Regions from separate parts of the Homo sapiens genome. Here region 2 is linked to region 1. A link means that fine-mapping ties the variant in region 1 to the expression of a gene that starts in the linked region. Tissue or cell type: whole blood. Region 1 holds a variant in brackets; the other region holds the start of a gene. All regions are shown on one strand. Distances are from middle to middle.

Evidence for each region.
Region 2: CHSY1 starts here. The variant in region 1 is fine-mapped to the expression of CHSY1 in whole blood (TOPMed, PIP above 0.99).

What each region holds. Positions count from the first base shown.
Region 1 is chr15:101,204,199-101,212,529 of GRCh38, reverse strand. All of the region lies in intron 2 of CHSY1 (chondroitin sulfate synthase 1), which reads left to right. Among named protein-coding and RNA genes, the nearest start is that of CHSY1, 44 kb to the left of the region's middle. RefSeq lists a silencer at 6,636-6,801. The variant G/A (reference allele first, on the strand shown) is at 4,508.
Region 2 is chr15:101,247,821-101,256,151 of GRCh38, reverse strand. It overlaps CHSY1 (chondroitin sulfate synthase 1), which reads left to right and starts at 4,104. Exons shown (of 3, transcript NM_014918.5): 1 at 4,104-5,015. The coding sequence starts at 4,696. LOC107984727 (a long non-coding RNA gene) reads left to right here and starts at 218. Exons shown (of 2, transcript XR_001751746.2): 1 at 218-566; 2 at 672-792. RefSeq lists silencers at 3,640-4,019, 4,190-4,499, 4,690-5,119.

The sequences.
Region 1 (8,331 bases):
ACGTGTGGACTCTTGTATAAGGCTTCTCTCACTTGAGCATGTTTCTGAGGCTCATCCATACAGTCGTGTGTATCAGTTGCTCATTCCTTTTTATTGCTTAGTAAACTTCACCTGGAGTATTTCTAGTTTTTTTACTATTATGAACAAAGTTGCTTTGACTACTCTTGAACAAGATTTTGTTTGTGGACATTTTTTAATATTTTTTTGAATAAATACCTAGAAGTGGAATTGCTCGGTCAGAGGATAGGTATATACTTAATTTCATAAGAAACTGCCATGTGTTTTTTCCCCAAAGTAGCCGTATCTTATTAACTCCCAACAGCACCGTATGAGAGTTCTGGTTATTTCATGTCCTCATCATTGTTTGGCATTCTCAGTCTTTTATGGTTTTAGACATTCTGATGGGTGTGTAGTGCATTTACTTCATTGTGATTTCAGTTTGCGTTTTCCCTATGACTAGTGATACTGAGTGCCTTTCCATGTGCTTATTGATCATGTGCCTGTCTTTTGTGCAGTGTCTGTTCACACCTTTTGTCCATGACTTTTGCCTACCCCAAGTCTTGAAGTTGTTCTCCTGTCTTTAAGCCACCTACTTTTTTTTTTTTTTTGGATGATATATTTTCTAGGTATAGAATTCCAGATTGGCAGGGGTTTTTTGTTTGTTTGTTCGTCTTACTATTCTTGAGCGCTTGGAAGATATCATTCCATTGCCTTCTGATTTCAGTTATTTTCTGATGAAATCACCTCTCAAGTCGTATTGTTTTTTCTTTGAAGGTATTTTATCTTTTCTCTGTATTTAGGATTATTTCTCCCTTGATAGTCAAATAATAGAAATTTTTTTTCTCTTTGATTTTGAGTAGTCCTATTATGATGTGCCCAGTTATACTGTCTTTGTATTTATTCAGCTGTGATTCACTGAACTTCTTAAATCTGTGGGTTTACATCTTTCGTCAGTATTAGAAATTTCTCAGCCATTATTTTTATAAATATTGCTTCTGTCCCATTTTTGCATCTGTTTCTGGGTCTCTAGTTACATATATATTACACATTTTCACTGAGTCCTATACGTGTTTTATGTTATTTTCAGTATTCTTTTTCACTCTAAGATCTCTGGATTTTTTCCGTCTGACACACCTTTCATTATACTAATATCTCTTCAGTTGTATCTAATCTGCCATCACACCTATTGTGCTTTGTTTGTTTTTTGAGACTAAGTCTCGCTCTTTCGCACAGGCTGGAGTGCAGTGGTGCAATCTCAGCTCACTGCAACCTCCATCTCCCAGGTTCAAGTGATTTTTCTGCCTCAGCCTCCCAGGTAGCTGGGATTAGAGGTGCCTGCCACCACGCCCGGCTAATTTTTGTATTTTTAGTAGAGACAGGGCTTTATCATGTTGGCCAGGCTGGTCATGAACTCCTGACCTCAGGTGATCCACCCTCCTCAGCCTCCCCAAGTGCTGGGATTACAGGCCTGAGCCACTGTGCCCAGCCTAAACCTATTGCATTTTAACTTTTAGCTGTGTATTTTAATTTTAGTTATTTCATTTGATATTTTTAATAGTTTAATATTGTCTGCTAAACTTCTACATCTTATCATCTGTTTCCTGGACATATTAATCACATTATTTCAAAGCCCATATCTGACAAGTATAGGTTTCTCTTGTCTGTTTTTCTTGGTTTTCAGTCACTTGGTCTTAAACAGCTGGCATGTTTAGTAGCTTTTGACTGAATCACAAACATTGTATTTAAAAAAAACTGGAATGTCTTTGGATATGATTACTGTCCTCCAGTGAGGATATAATTTTGCTTCTGGCAGACAGTTAAGGTTGGACCACGTAACCTTAATCCAATCAGATATTGAGCTGAGTTTTGAATCAGCTGCTTCATTTTTCTAAGACTTGGTCTATTTCTGGCCCACCCCTGCTCTTAAGATGCAGTTCTCCTTTTCTCCCTCCACTTTCCTCCATTTCGCAGTCTTCTTGATTATGATTTCTTTAAAATCACAACTTAGATTCTAGTTTTCTTTGACTAAAAAAAACTATTTGTAATTTTAAAACTCAAGAAAATAGGATTTGAGATTCAAAGCATTACTTTTCCAGTATCCATCTAGTGTCTCTGTATCTCTTCTAGACGTTGTTTAAATGGGGATTAGTTTTTCTATTAAATGTAGGGTTTTTGCAATGACAGGAAGATAAAGTCTTAAGAGGTTTATGTTTAAGGTGTGATGGTGCCTTCAGCCTCTTTTTCTGCTAAGCACTTTTGCTTTGCACATTATGCAGAATTGTGGCTATAATAGGCCTTACTAACTCCCTGTGGCCAAGTATTTTTAAAATCTGACAATAAAAGGTACTGGCTAATCTGTTTAGTGAGTGATTATAATCAAATCATATTCCAAGGTTACAGATCTTGTTTTTGAACTTTGTTTTTTTCTTTTCCATGCTTTTTCCTAGAAACATTCAGAAAGTTTTACCAAGGTTAATCAGTAGGCAGGAAGAGAAATAACGGACTAAGAGTTGAAGACAAGTGCTTTAAGAAACTTACTCAGTATTTTAACGACACTAACTTGTAGTAACCTCAAAGAGTCTTCATTACAAAATTTAAGGCACTTGTATACTTTTTGTATACTTTCTGTGTTGAACTTGCCATTTCAGTTGTCATTCAGTACAGATCAGTCACATGCCAGTAGATTTCTTTTTAGCTTATAGTGTTGTCCTCACATCTTCCACACTAAGAAACTGAAGAATGCCACTATGTATCTTCTAAGAAAATACCTGTCTGTTGGAACAGTTTCTGATTCACTATTTATAACCTGCCCTGAGAATTAAACATAGAAAATATAGAAAGATTCATTTTTACTGCCCTTTCTCCTCCTCTGCTGACTTCATGCAAACATTTCTTATTGTTGCATAGCAACTGATCCTGCTATTTGTTATTTTTGTTTAGCAGGTTTTTTTTTCCCATGGAATATTGAATTCATATCACAATTTCCAGTCTCTGAAGCTCAGTGATAAAGGTTTTTACTTAACCCTTTTTCCTTAAAACAAAAAGCTTCACGGCATACAGGTATATATCGCTTTATTCTTCTTACGTAAGTCTATGTATAAGTTGAAGTTTTATTAAAACGGATGGCATTTTACGAACACTGGCATTATGTCCTTAGTCACTTTCAGTCTGAAACAGGTCTCCATCCTTTTCTTGATTTTTATGACCTTGACACTTCTGGAGCTTACAGACCAGTGGAATGTTTATCAGTTTGCATTTATTTTCTCATGATTAGGTTCAAGTGTGCAGATACTACAGAAGCGTTGCTGTGTTCTCTTTGTATCCTAACAGTTTGTGATTTTGGTTTGCTCTGTTATTGGTAGTATTAACTTTGGTCATTTAACTAAGGTAGAGTGATTAGGAAAACCTGGCCAGGTTTCTCCACTGTAAAGTTACTCTCTGTCTTTTTATATTTAGTGAGTGTCATTGTGGAGAGACTGTAAATATCCTGTTCCTCATCAAACTCCCACCCCCAATAGTTTTAGCATTAATTGATGTTTCTTGGCAGAATAAATGAATAGTGTGATGGTTGCTAAATGGTGATTTTCTAATCCAGTTATTCTTTCTACTTTTATTAGTTGAAAGTAAGGAAAAGCTTGTTCCTTTTCCCATTTACTTATGTGTGTGCTTGTATGAGTATACACTCTTGTATTCCTATTTTATTTAATGAGTTATAATCTCTTACCATTATTATACATTTCCATGTTTACATCACCTTAGACGTGTCCAGTGGCTGCTGTTTGTTGCAGGCTTCTGTATCTCTTTTTTTTTTTTTTTTGAGATGGAGCCTTGCTCTGTCACCCAGGCTGGAGTGCAGTGGCACGATCTCGGTTCACTGCAACCTCCGCCTCCTGGGTTCAAGCAATTCTCATGCCTCTACCTCCCGAGTAGTTGGTATTACAGGCGTCCGCCACCATACCTGGCTAATTTTTGTATTTTTAGTAGAGACGGGGTTTCACCATGTTGGTCAGGCTGGTCTCGAACTCCTGACCTCAAATGATCCACCCGCCTTGGGTTCCCAAAGTGCTGGGATTCCAGGCATGAGGCACCATGACTGGCCTTCTGTATCTTTTTGATATGCCCCTATAACTGTTTGAGCAATTTCTTTCTGGCATACTAAGATGTTTCAGGCTGTTATTTTTTCCCTGCCCTAGCCTTGCAGTCTGCCATCTCTCGAAGAGTCTCTGGTTCTTTTTAGTGGAAAACATTTAGAAGCCAAGATCTAGACTGTGGGTGTGCTCGTTGCTGTGGGTGTTGGCTGGCCCACTCCTGAGCAGTGGGCTGACCAGGGGAAAATGTGCATGTGTGTGTGTGTCCTTGGGTTCCCCCTGATACTCCAAATCCCATTTCAACCCCAAAGGGTTCTTCCTCTTCTCTCCCTTTCTGTATTTGTAATTGCTTTATTTGACAGTTGAGAAATCTAGCTGCTCATTGGCCTCAGCCACATTTACTTACTGCATCAGTTTCC[G/A]CTGTAAGTGAGCAATCCTCTGTTGCAATGCCTCCTTCCCGGTGCCTTCCCTATGTGACTCAACTCAAGGGTTGGCGGCCTACCTGACGCCCCAAGGCTGGGCCACTGCACCAGCCCACCCTCACCCCATCTGGGGACCCTATCTTGCTTGACCCCACTAGTGGCTTTTTACTTCAGGACAACGGGTGGGGCAGGGGCAAGAAGCCTAACTCCATCTTGAAATAAGCTTTTCAATTTTAGTTACTAGATTCCAGGTACTACCTGTGTCACATGGCAACGCAGCCCTCATTCTCAGAGGATTTTAAAAACCTGTTGGTAAATTTAGCAAGACTGAATATTTGCTTGGATAGTATATTCTGGAAGATCTATTTTCTTTGAGTGTTTATTTGTGCCAAATATTCAACTTTTTTTTTCTAGTAGATTGGGTCTTGTCTTAATTATTTCTGTATTCCATTTAGAGGTTAACATATGAGGCACTTGAGTGTTTGATGAATTAACAGATACAGAGCATATGAGAGAGGCACCTGGAAATTTAAGAAAAATATCCTGTTAACATTGAAATGAAATATTATATAACATACTAGAAGGTATTGTTGTTCACAGATAGCCAGCATCATGAGTTGGTTCTAAAAATCAGAATGAACAATTTTTAAAATACTGTTGTTAGTTGGCGAAGTGAAGACTTGGTGACGCTGATTCTTCCCATTCTGAAGGGTTATGTGGACGTAACTCTTTCCTTTGCTTTCAGCCAAAGACTTTTTATTTCCAAAAATGAGGTATAGAAGAAAAGACTTTTATTCCCATTTTGGATAGTGAGTGGCTTATTTTTCTTTTGACTGCAAATGCTGTGTTAATATAAAAAACATTTGTCAAGAGTAGACCCTTTCTGAGAAATATATTAGACAATATTTGTTTCAGTTATCTTAGTAGGATTTTTCCCCTTTTAGGTTTTGTTTGTTTCCTTTTGGCTTTGTTTTGTTTGGTCTTGTTTCTTTTAAATTAAACTAATTTTGGAATGTGCTGACACGCGAGAGTGGTACTGGATAGCCAGTGGAAATGCGTGGCATACGTTCCTAGAACATTAATTTTACCTGAGGTCTGGGAGAGAGACTTTTTTTATGAGATAAACATGGGTGTCCTAGAGTATCATTGCAAATTAGTGTGAATTTTTATGATTAAAAATGAGAAAAGAAATTTGGTATTTTTTGGAGGACTATTTTAGGCTGTGCCCCAAAACCCTGGGAATATTTGTTCACTCTCTCTGCCATTATGGCTGCTTCTGTGTAGGGAAAATAAAATGACAAACCTACATGTTTTCTCACAGATGATAAATGTATTTCTTCTTCTCTGTAGCCTATTAATTAATATCTAACACTGCTGTCTCTTCTAGCTTCCACAGTTTACTTTCTTTTGGTGCATAATTTAATGAGTGTTCGTTTATTTTCTGAAGTGTTATTTGTATAAAGTGAGCCCACATAAAAGCTTCTTTCCAAAGTGTTTTCATGGGAAACGGATCTTGGTGGTGATCTGTCACTTAGCACGTCACCGCCTTCAGAGCCCCAGCTGATGACTAACCCCACAGTGGGAGCTGCTACCCCTGCCTGTGGGTAGTGTGCCATGTCCTCCCTCACTGCGACCTCCACCCCTGCCTCTGACTCAGTGGTTCTCTTCAGTGGATCATATGAGTCTTTAGAAACAAATACCTGGTCGTTGGTTCTCCTGCCGACTCGAGACCTGGTGGGTTTTCCCTTGTCTGTCTAGTTTCACTCCGTGGCGCACGAGGCACACCATGCCTGTGCAGCCCTAGTCTTATCTCCTGAATCAAACCTCTCGCCTCAGAGGCTCACCCGGGGAGAGAAAGGAGAGCAGACAGAGATTGGAGTTTGAAATTAAACTTCTCATTTAGTATTGCAAACGTTATGAAGCATATATCAAAAATCAAATGTCCTGGAATCCTGCTGCCTTAGTGATGGAGCGTATTACTGTCTATAGGAACTTGAAATAGAAAACACTACCATACCAGGATCATGGGGTAGAGCAAATTAATAAACAATCTTCTTTTTTTTTTTTTGAGACGGAGTCTCTCTCTTTCGCCCAGGCTGGAGTGTAGTGGCGCTATCTCGGCTCACTGCAAGCTCCGCCTCCTGGGTTCACGCCATTCTCCTGCCTCAGCCCCCCTGAGTAGCTGGGACTACGGGCGCCCACCACCACGCCCAGCTAATTTTTTGTATTTTTAGTAGAGACGGGGTTTCACCGTTTTATCCAGGATGGTCTCGATCTCCTGATCTCGTGATCCACCCACCTCAGCCTCCCAAAGTACTGGGATTACAGGTGTGAGCCACCACGCCCGGCCAACAATCTTCAAAATTAAAATTCTTCACTTAGAGCAGAATAAGCATGTATGGGTTTGTGTGTTTAAATGTCAGGCTGCTAATACTAATAGTCGTTAGTAGAAAAATCAAGCTCAGTTTTGTGATCACAGTACTCTTCAGGTTTGGGTATGTGTCTTTTCACAAGTAGCTATAAACATCTGGTAGACCTGTGTGTTTTCTCTAGTTATCAGGAAACATTGTGGAGTCTATGTCAATTGATTACTAGCTTGTTTATATAAATGGGGAAATATAAAGACCAGGCTTTTTCTTAAACAACTGAAGAGTATGCTGGTTCTAGTTTCTTTCCTCTGAATCATGTGTGTGTGGTGGCAATTTAGTGACTGGGAGGCACTGGAAATTATTGGTTATAATAAATTGATGTCATGCCCACAGCACAGCAGGCAAAAAGGATGAATTAGAGACAGAAATAGTAATAGGGTTTTGTCCAGGAAACCTCAAGCATATGAGGTATTGCCATGTTGATTACTTTAAAAAAAGAAAAAAAAAGATAAAATATTAGAACTTTAAGCTTAATAAAAATAGATTACAGAGGAAAAACTTCTTGCTTTATGCTTCTGAAAATCTCTCTGAGTAGTTAAAGAGCTGTTTAGAAATCTGTTAGCCATACTTTCATGATTTGCTGGTGGATAGAGTATGTAGTATTGCGAAAAATTAGTTACTATGATCTTCGCCAAGTGACAGTATTCTTAACTCTGCCAGATGGTCTTTTTTGTGTGTGTGGCGGGGGGATGGAGTCTCGTTCTAGTGCCCAGGCTGGAATGCTGTGGTGTGACCTTGGCTCACTGCAACTTTCGGCTCCTGGGTTCAAGCAATTCTTGTGCCTCAGCCTCCTGAACAGCTGGGATTATAGGTGTGTGCCACCATCCCCAGCTAATTTTTTGTAGTTTTAGTAGAAATGGGGTTTCATTATGTCAGTCAGGCTGGTCTTGAACCCCTGTCCTCAAGTGATCTGCCTACCTTGGCCTCCCAAAGTGCTGGGATTACAGGTGTGAGCCACCATGCCCAGCTGGATGGTCATTTTTAACCACTGTTTTTTGGGGGGCAATTTTTATTTTGAAAAAATTTAACTTAATAGAAAACTCCTATAAGTCTTTCACCCAAATTCCCTGATTATTAATATTTACCACATCAGCTTTATCATTTTCTCTATAAGTGTACATTATTATTATTATTATTATTATTATTATTATTATTTGAGATGGAGTTTCGCTCTTACTGCCCAGTCTAGAGTGCAATGGCACGATCTCGACTCACTGCACCCTCCATCTCCCGGGTTCAAGTGATTCTCCTGCCTCACCCTCCCGAGTAGCTGGGATTACAGGTGCACGCCACCACGCCCAGCTAATTTTTGTATTTTTAGTAGAGATGGGGTTTCGCCATATTGGCCAGGCTAGTCTCGAACTCCTGACCTCAGCTGATCCACCCACCTCG
Region 2 (8,331 bases), 44 kb before region 1:
GGAGCTTTGTCTTTGTGCAAACTTCCCAGCTGTGGAAACTCTGGCACCGCTTTAAAGATCAATGCATTTCTTGGCAAGGGATGGGAAAGGCAAACTCCTCTCCACAAGGATTAAGTCTTAACACCAGAAGCCAACTGTCCTCAGCCTCTGCAGTGAGGTTGTCTCCTAAAGAACATTCAGGCTGGTTCCCAGTAGTGCCTGTGCTGGCGGCACCCAGCGTTTTCTAGTTAGGAAGATCACATCCCATCTGGCTGGTCCACATGGTTATACTGAACTTAAATCTCTTTTGTGTCTCTATCGTACACATGAAAGCTCACACACACACACACACACACACACACACACACAGTGTGAGAAGCACTCACACTGACTCAGCGTCTGATGGAAACGGTGTACACAGCTGATAAGCACTGAAGGACTTTGCAGAACACCCAGGGCTGGAATAGGCCAGTGTGTGAAACCAGAACGTGAGCCCTGCTCACTTGCCCTTTCCTGCATCTGACTGGAAATGCTACAAACAGAAGGAAATAGTGAGCGAAATTAACAACCTCATGAGGATCTTGCTTGTAAGTTTAATAGCAGCATTCATAATGAAGCAGTGTTTTATTGGGTTAACAGAGGTTAAGTGGCAATATTAGTAAAGTGGTCATTATAGATTTTCTTCTTTGCAGGCAGTGAACAGAACCTTCTGAAAGGATGGATGATTATAACTCCTCAGCATTCACTGTTTCTTAAAACAGGCCTTTCTGAAAGTTTTTTTTCTTTAATAAAAATTACCACTTTTTCCAAGGACCCCTGTTTGAGGCGTGAGTGGAGAGGCTTCATCTTTAAAGAAGCTCTAACAGGGAACTCTGTCGGTCGTTTGAGGCTTGCTGCCAACAAACAATTGAGGTATTTACCAAGGGTTTCCAAGAAATTGCTGCAAATTATATGAAATGTTATACTGGTAACAGACGTTCAATGTATTAGCAACAGAAAAGAAATGTGAAGTGTGTGGGAACAAAGTTGCCATCTGTGAGAAAATGCTCAGTAAGGTAGGTGGCGATGAACTTTAATAATGTGTCATAAAGAGTCACACTCATGAACACAGAAGGGAAGTTAAGTGATCTGGGATTTTTGAACACATTTCTGAATACTGGTCTGGAATCACTATGGAGGACCGTTTAACGTGATCCAGCAGAAAGACTCATTTGGAGACAGAGCCGGACTCCCGGAGCCCCTCCAGGTGGAACTCACTCCACGCAGAGCTCAGACTCGGTCCCACACTCCTGATCCCTGATCCATCACAGCCCACCTCTTGGGCCACTCCTGTGCCATTGGGACTTTCATGGAATAACTACAGTTAAGGGCTTCCTTACAAGTGTTCCTGGTAACAGTTAATACCTCCCCTTCTTTTATGATGAGAAAAATGGTCAATGATTCCCTCAACAGAGAAGGCCAGTAGCACAGTGAAATCAAGAAGCCCGGAACATGAAAAGTCTTTCCTCAGCTCCCTGCAGTGAAATCCCTATAAATGCGAATCACCCTGCCTACTCCTTACCTTTAAAAATTACTTAGGGTGAGGGGGCTTTAGGATGAGGACAGCCTTGGCCTCCAGGGGGCTGTGGGGAAGGACGCATGTGTGTGCATTGGGGGCAGATGTTCCAGACCCTCGTTGTCCTCCCTGGCTCCTTGCTGGTATTGACTAGTGGGGCTGGGCATGGGACAGGCCTTCATACTGGGGGTACCAGTCCTGTCCAGCTGTTTGGGTCTCTGGCTGTCACTGAAGTTCTTGATTCCAGGTATTTGCTACTGGCTGTGAAATCCCCACTTAGGATAGCCTTGTCTCCTGAGCCAGGCCCCTTACTGGGACACTTTTGGATTCTTCCCCAGGAGAACTGCCTCAGCTCAACAATCCAGCTGCTCCTTCCAGATGTGCTAGAGCTTGCCCTCCTGCTCCTAGGCTGCATGCCGGAATTGGTCCCTGCCCCTGGCAGACTTCTACAGGACCTCAGTTTCTCTCTTCTCCTTCCAACCCTCTCTTGGCCTGGCATATCCCTCTTCTCCCAGAGGGAGTTCCCGTATGTCTTACTCTCCTTCTCCAGGGAATTGTAAGCCCTCAGGCTCAGCCTTTACAAAGAAAAGGGTATCCTTTCTACATTACGAAAGACCCCCATTAAGCCTGCAGGTGAGACAGGTGAGACTGTTAACCTAGGAACTGAGGGACAACTAGGAACCAGGATATTGAGGAGGACAAAATATTTGGCATCCTCAGAATATTATTCCCATCAGATATTTATATACTTTTTTTTTTTTTTTCCTTGAGACGGAGTTTCGCTGTTGTCGCCCAGGCTGCAGTGCAATGCAATGGCACGATCTCGGCTCACAGCAACCTCCACCTCCCGGGTTCAAGCGATTCTCCTGCCTCAGCCTCCCGAGTAGCTGGGATTACAGGCATGCACCACCACCCCCGGCTAATTTTGTATTTTTAGTAGAGTCGGGGTTTCTCCATGTTGGTCAGGTTGGTCTCGAACTCCTGACCTCAGGCGATCCGCCCGCCTCAGCCTCCCAGAGTGCTGGGTTTACAGGCGTGAGCCACCGCGCCCGGCCAGCTTTTCACTGGACACTAGTTTCGAAGAAAACTAGGTAAGTCTAAAGCAGGTTAGAAAATACTGAAATCGTTGAATATGCTACAAAATTGAACATCTGAATCTGGCCAGATTCGTACTTCATGTAAATCACTGTGAATGATGGGGCTGCTGAATTTGGGGGATCTGGTGACTCCTCGGCATTTGTGGTTTATGGTCTTAGTGGAAACCTTTTTCGATGGTTTTCGAGCCTGTAATTCATGGTTGTATGTTCTGTATTTTTCCCAAGACCACTGCTGGAATCCTGTATTCACTGCATAATGAGTATTTTATTTTTAGATGTGGATCACCCCTTAGGGAGGGGCTCTGTGGGAAGGTAGGTAATGAACTATTTTTAATATAAATCACAAGTGTCAAAGAAAGTGGTAATATCCAAAGAATAAACAAGAGTGACCACCATTCAGGTGCCGAGAAGGTATCTGAAGCTCCCACAGGCATTTTAAACTGTGTGATAGTATTTCAACCATTTGGTCAACAATGAAGAAAGATCCAAGGATTGCCCCAGGCATGTGTTTATTTGATTCAATGCAGGTAACTTCTCAGGCCCAGGGAAACACTTTGCCCTTCAAAAGTTTCATTAGAAAACCCCAATATACTGGTGACTAAGTAACAAGACTGAAACTCTACACAAACTTTCGTTGTATGGAGACCTCCGCTTTTGCTGCCTTAGCTGAAGTATTGCAGAGGAAATGTATAAAACTTAAAATCCAGAGTAGAGGATCTGGGACCCAAAATCCGTCTTTAGAAATCCACGGCACTTTTACAGACGGACTATATTAAAGTAGGGACAAAGTCCCAGGCTGGGGGTACTAGCCGGCTATCTGCCCACACAGTATGTAAATGAAAGTAGGGTTTACCATCCAGGGCATTAACTTCATTTTCCTTGTCTTCGAGATCCATTAAATGCTAGTACTGTATGAGAAGCGTGGACCTTAAGTATTAAAGATGGCTTTTTCTTCTTCTTCTTCTTATTTAGCGTAGAAACTAGCAACAGGGAACAAGGTAACTGAATTCACGGTCCACTCGCAGGCGCGCACGTCCCCAGGGCTCCGGGACGGCTGTTCCCTGCGTGCGGCCGCGGGACTGCGGACAAAGCTGCAGTGTGGTCGGGAGCGCGGGGCCGGGAGCGCGGGGCCGGCCCGGCGGCAGGAAGGGCGTGGCCGTGGGGTGCAGCGAGGACGGCCCGTGCGGGAGGAACGTGCGCAGCGTGGAGTCTGGGGGCCGAGAAGCCCCCACTGCAAGGCTGGCTCCCGAGATTCGCGCCCGGGCGCCGCGGTGCGGGAAGCGGCCGTCCTCGCGGGGACGCCCTTGCGCCGGGTGCTAGGTGCGGATCACGGGCAGCTCCGGCCCCGCGGGCGCCGGGCGGGGGCCCACGCCCCCTCCGCCCGCCAGCTCCAGTCGCAGACCGCGCGGGCGGGGCGCCCGAGAGGGCTTTTTTTTTTTTTGGTCAAACTTCGGCCACGTGAACCGCCCCTCATTCACTTTTGCGCCAATCGCGCGGCGCGGACGGATCCCGAGAGGGGCCACGGCTCGCCGCCGGCGGGGCCACTTCATAACGCGCCGTGCGTGACGTGAGGGGCTCCTGTTGCAATGGCGAGCTAAGCCGGAGGATGTGCAGCTGCGGCGGCGGCGCCGGCTACGAAGAGGACGGGGACAGGCGCCGTGCGAACCGAGCCCAGCCAGCCGGAGGACGCGGGCAGGGCGGGACGGGAGCCCGGACTCGTCTGCCGCCGCCGTCGTCGCCGTCGTGCCGGCCCCGCGTCCCCGCGCGCGAGCGGGAGGAGCCGCCGCCACCTCGCGCCCGAGCCGCCGCTAGCGCGCGCCGGGCATGGTCCCCTCTTAAAGGCGCAGGCCGCGGCGGCGGGGGCGGGCGTGCGGAACAAAGCGCCGGCGCGGGGCCTGCGGGCGGCTCGGGGGCCGCGATGGGCGCGGCGGGCCCGCGGCGGCGGCGGCGCTGCCCGGGCCGGGCCTCGCGGCGCTAGGGCGGGCTGGCCTCCGCGGGCGGGGGCAGCGGGCTGAGGGCGCGCGGAGCCTGCGGCGGCGGCCCGGCGGGCGGAGCGGCGCGGGCATGGCCGCGCGCGGCCGGCGCGCCTGGCTCAGCGTGCTGCTCGGGCTCGTCCTGGGCTTCGTGCTGGCCTCGCGGCTCGTCCTGCCCCGGGCTTCCGAGCTGAAGCGAGCGGGCCCACGGCGCCGCGCCAGCCCCGAGGGCTGCCGGTCCGGGCAGGCGGCGGCTTCCCAGGCCGGCGGGGCGCGCGGCGATGCGCGCGGGGCGCAGCTCTGGCCGCCCGGCTCGGACCCAGATGGCGGCCCGCGCGACAGGAACTTTCTCTTCGTGGGAGTCATGACCGCCCAGAAATACCTGCAGACTCGGGCCGTGGCCGCCTACAGGTGAGCCCCTGCTCCCCGGGCACCGCCTCCTGCGTCCGGCATCCCGGCGGCCGGCATCCCGGGTGCTCTCCTGGCTCTCGCCTCCGCCCGCTTCCTAGGCCCTTCTTGGGCTTCCGGCGGGATCGGGTTGCCTCTCGGGAGACGCCGGGCCGAGGGAGAAAAGATCAGAGGCGGGATGGTGAGCGCGGCGCTCAGGAACATGGCCTTTGGGGTCAGATGGACTAGTGTGGCCTCGCTGGGTGTACCTCTCACCCTGATGAAGGCACTTTAGCCTTTGCAAATCGAAGCTTCTCGTTAGAAGGGCCCGACAGATCGGGTCTCCCTCATAATGTTGGAAAACTCATAGCACAGTACCTGATAGTGGAGGCAGTTGGGGCTGATACTGGATTCCCTAAAATGTGCACCTTTGTCCTTGCAAAGCTGGAGCCCGTGTACGTTAATCTAGTTCTAGAACCTTTCCACATCATACTCTCACATTTCGCAGTTGGAGGCACTCCTATAAATGAAAGAGAATGCCCGCAGCATATTGGACCACACCAGTCTGTTGAGTACAGAGAGAGAGAACCTTGGGGAAAAGCAGTTCTTGGCCCTTGGTAGATTCAGTGGAAAACTGCATTCTGGTGTTAATTAGTTCAGCTTGGTGGTGTATGCATGTTATCCAGTAACTGGGCTCTAGTTGGCCAAATGAGTCATAAAAGCAGCTGGAATTGTGTTCAGGTTTAACAAAGGGATTAGCCAATGTAGTCTCTAGAAGGGAGATGATTTTGGAATGGCTGGCATGGTTAGAATCAGATTTGTATTGGAGTGAATTTGAAGTTGGAGAGGGTTGTAGACTCGATAAAGGGATTTGATGGAAACCCTATATGTGTGAAGTATAGAGACACTTACTGTATGGATAAAGTTTGGGTCTTATCCAGCCACAGAGCAAACCAATGTGGGGAATGGTTTTAGAGCATCAGTTGTCTGGTAATGAAATTTCAGAGCAGCCAGTGCTGAGCCAGGCTAAGCTGGTTGCTGTTTGTTCTTATAACCAATACCTTTACACTTCAGTTTTTAAATGCAGTCTTGGTCAGATTTTTCAGGCACTAGATGTTGTGAGGGGAAAAGCATATATGGTCTCCCTTGCCTTTAAGGGAGAAAGTAAAGGACTGAGAAAGAAGGTGAAAGTGGTCTTCAGTGACTGCCCCTTGAATGGCTTGATCCCCATTCCTGCACATTTCCATTAGGGTCCTGCTTAAGTCCAGAACCCACATTCCGCCAGGAAGGGTCCTGAGTGGCTTGAAAAGCTTAGAATGCAGGTATTGTAAATACAGACTAATGCAGGCGGGGCGCCGTGGCTCACGCCTGTAATTCTAGCACTTTGGGAGGCCGAGGCGGGCGGATCGCCTGAGGTCAGGAGTTCGACACCAGCCTGACCAATATGGTGAAACCCCGTCTCTACTCAAGAGTACAAAAATTAGCCGGGTGTGGTGGCGTGCACCTGTAGTCCCAGCCACTCAGGAGGCTGAGGCAGGAGAATCGCTTGAACCCAGGAGGCGGAGGTTGCAATGAGCCAAGATCATGCCACTGCACTCCAGCCTGGGCTACAGAGTGAGACTCCATCTCAAAAAAAAAAAAAAAAAAAAATTCTATCTATCGATCGATAGATAGAGATACATAGACTAGTGCAGTGATTTGGGAACCAGCCTATCAGGATCTCTCCCAGATCTACCTTGCATTACCTGAGGTTTTATGGGATTTTTTTTTTTTTTTTGACCAGAGAAACAGCCGTATCGGAAATCGAGGATGAGCCATATAGATTATTTACAGCATGGTTTTGAAAGTAAATCCGCATGACTCTAGTGTGGTGATAGACCATGTGAAATCACAGTTTTGGGGACAGTTAACAAACCAGTTAGTACAAACAGTAAATTAGGTAACTCCCTTATCTCCCCCATGCCCCCTGAACCAAATACATTTTCATGGTTACGGTATCAATATATTCAAATCAGTGGGGGGCCTAATGCACCAGCAATACTCAGAAAATGTAATGCAGGCCGGGCGCGGTGGCTCACGCCTGTCATCCCAGCACTTTGGGAGGCCGAGGCGGGCGGATCATGAGGTCAGGAGATCAAGACCATCCTGGCTAACACGGTGAAACCCCATCTCTACTGAAAATGCAAAAAAAAAAAAAAAAAAAAAAATTAGCCAGGCTTGGTGGCAGGTGCCTGTAGTCCCAGCTACTCGGGAGGCTGAGGCAGGAGAATGGCGTAAACCCAGGAGGCAGAGGTTGCTGTGACCCGAGATTGCGTCACTGCGCTCCATCCTGGGGGGCAGAGCAAGACTCCGTCTCAAAAAAAAGAAAATAAGTAAAAGAAAATGTAATGCAAACTAGAACTACTGTTTCACACTTGGAGATGGTTTTCCAAACTCGAGCTTAACGCTCTTACTTTTGGCCTCCTTTCCACATCTCTTCCCTCATCTTTTTCTGGATGTAAGACTTAATCTCATTGTTTATTTATTATTTTTTTTTCAGGTGGTTAGGGGAAAGCAGAAACACAGTTTGCCCCCAGGCGGGGTTCTCCCTTTCTTTTGACACCTCTGCCTTTCTGAGAAAGGAAAACGCCTACCAGGAGATAGTGTCCAGCTAATGTCACTCCAGCTCTCTCACAGAAGTTTCCTTTTATCTCTCAGATCTTAAGAAGTCAGAGTGCATGGAGCCTGGAGGTGGACCTGCCCTGCCAGTTAGGGTCCTTTGCCTCTTGCCTGCCAACCCTGTGTTTAGACTGACTGCAGGAGTTGGCACAAGACGATTTTAGCCTTAAGGCTAAAAGTTAAGGAACTTTTGGGGAGGGCCTCAATTGGGATGGAGGTTATAGGGTATAACATATGATTCCAGTTTTACTGTGCTTTGCAGCCCAGACCAAAAGTCCACACTGAGCTCTTAAATTGGAAATTCCATGCACAGTTCAGTATAAAAGTAAGCTTGACTCTTCTAGCACAAGGTAGAACTCTAGTTTGGAAATCGATGTGCTGAGCTTTACATTTCTCCTGAAAGGTAAATTCATTCTTCATCTTATCGAAAACTGTAGTTTTGTTTTTTAAAAAAAACAAAAAAACAACTGTTGTTTGGCTTATAGATGAAGGAGATGCCAGCACTTTCAGTAAGATGATACTTTGGTGTAGAATACTGAAAATGTCAGAATTTAGGTGAAGGGACTAGTAGCTAGCAACCTCTTCATTCCAACAACTCTGAGATCCAGAAAGGGGCTAAAAAAGCTTTTGAAAATCCAAGGAGATATGCCCGTCCACACTAAAGGCACAGCACTTTGATGAT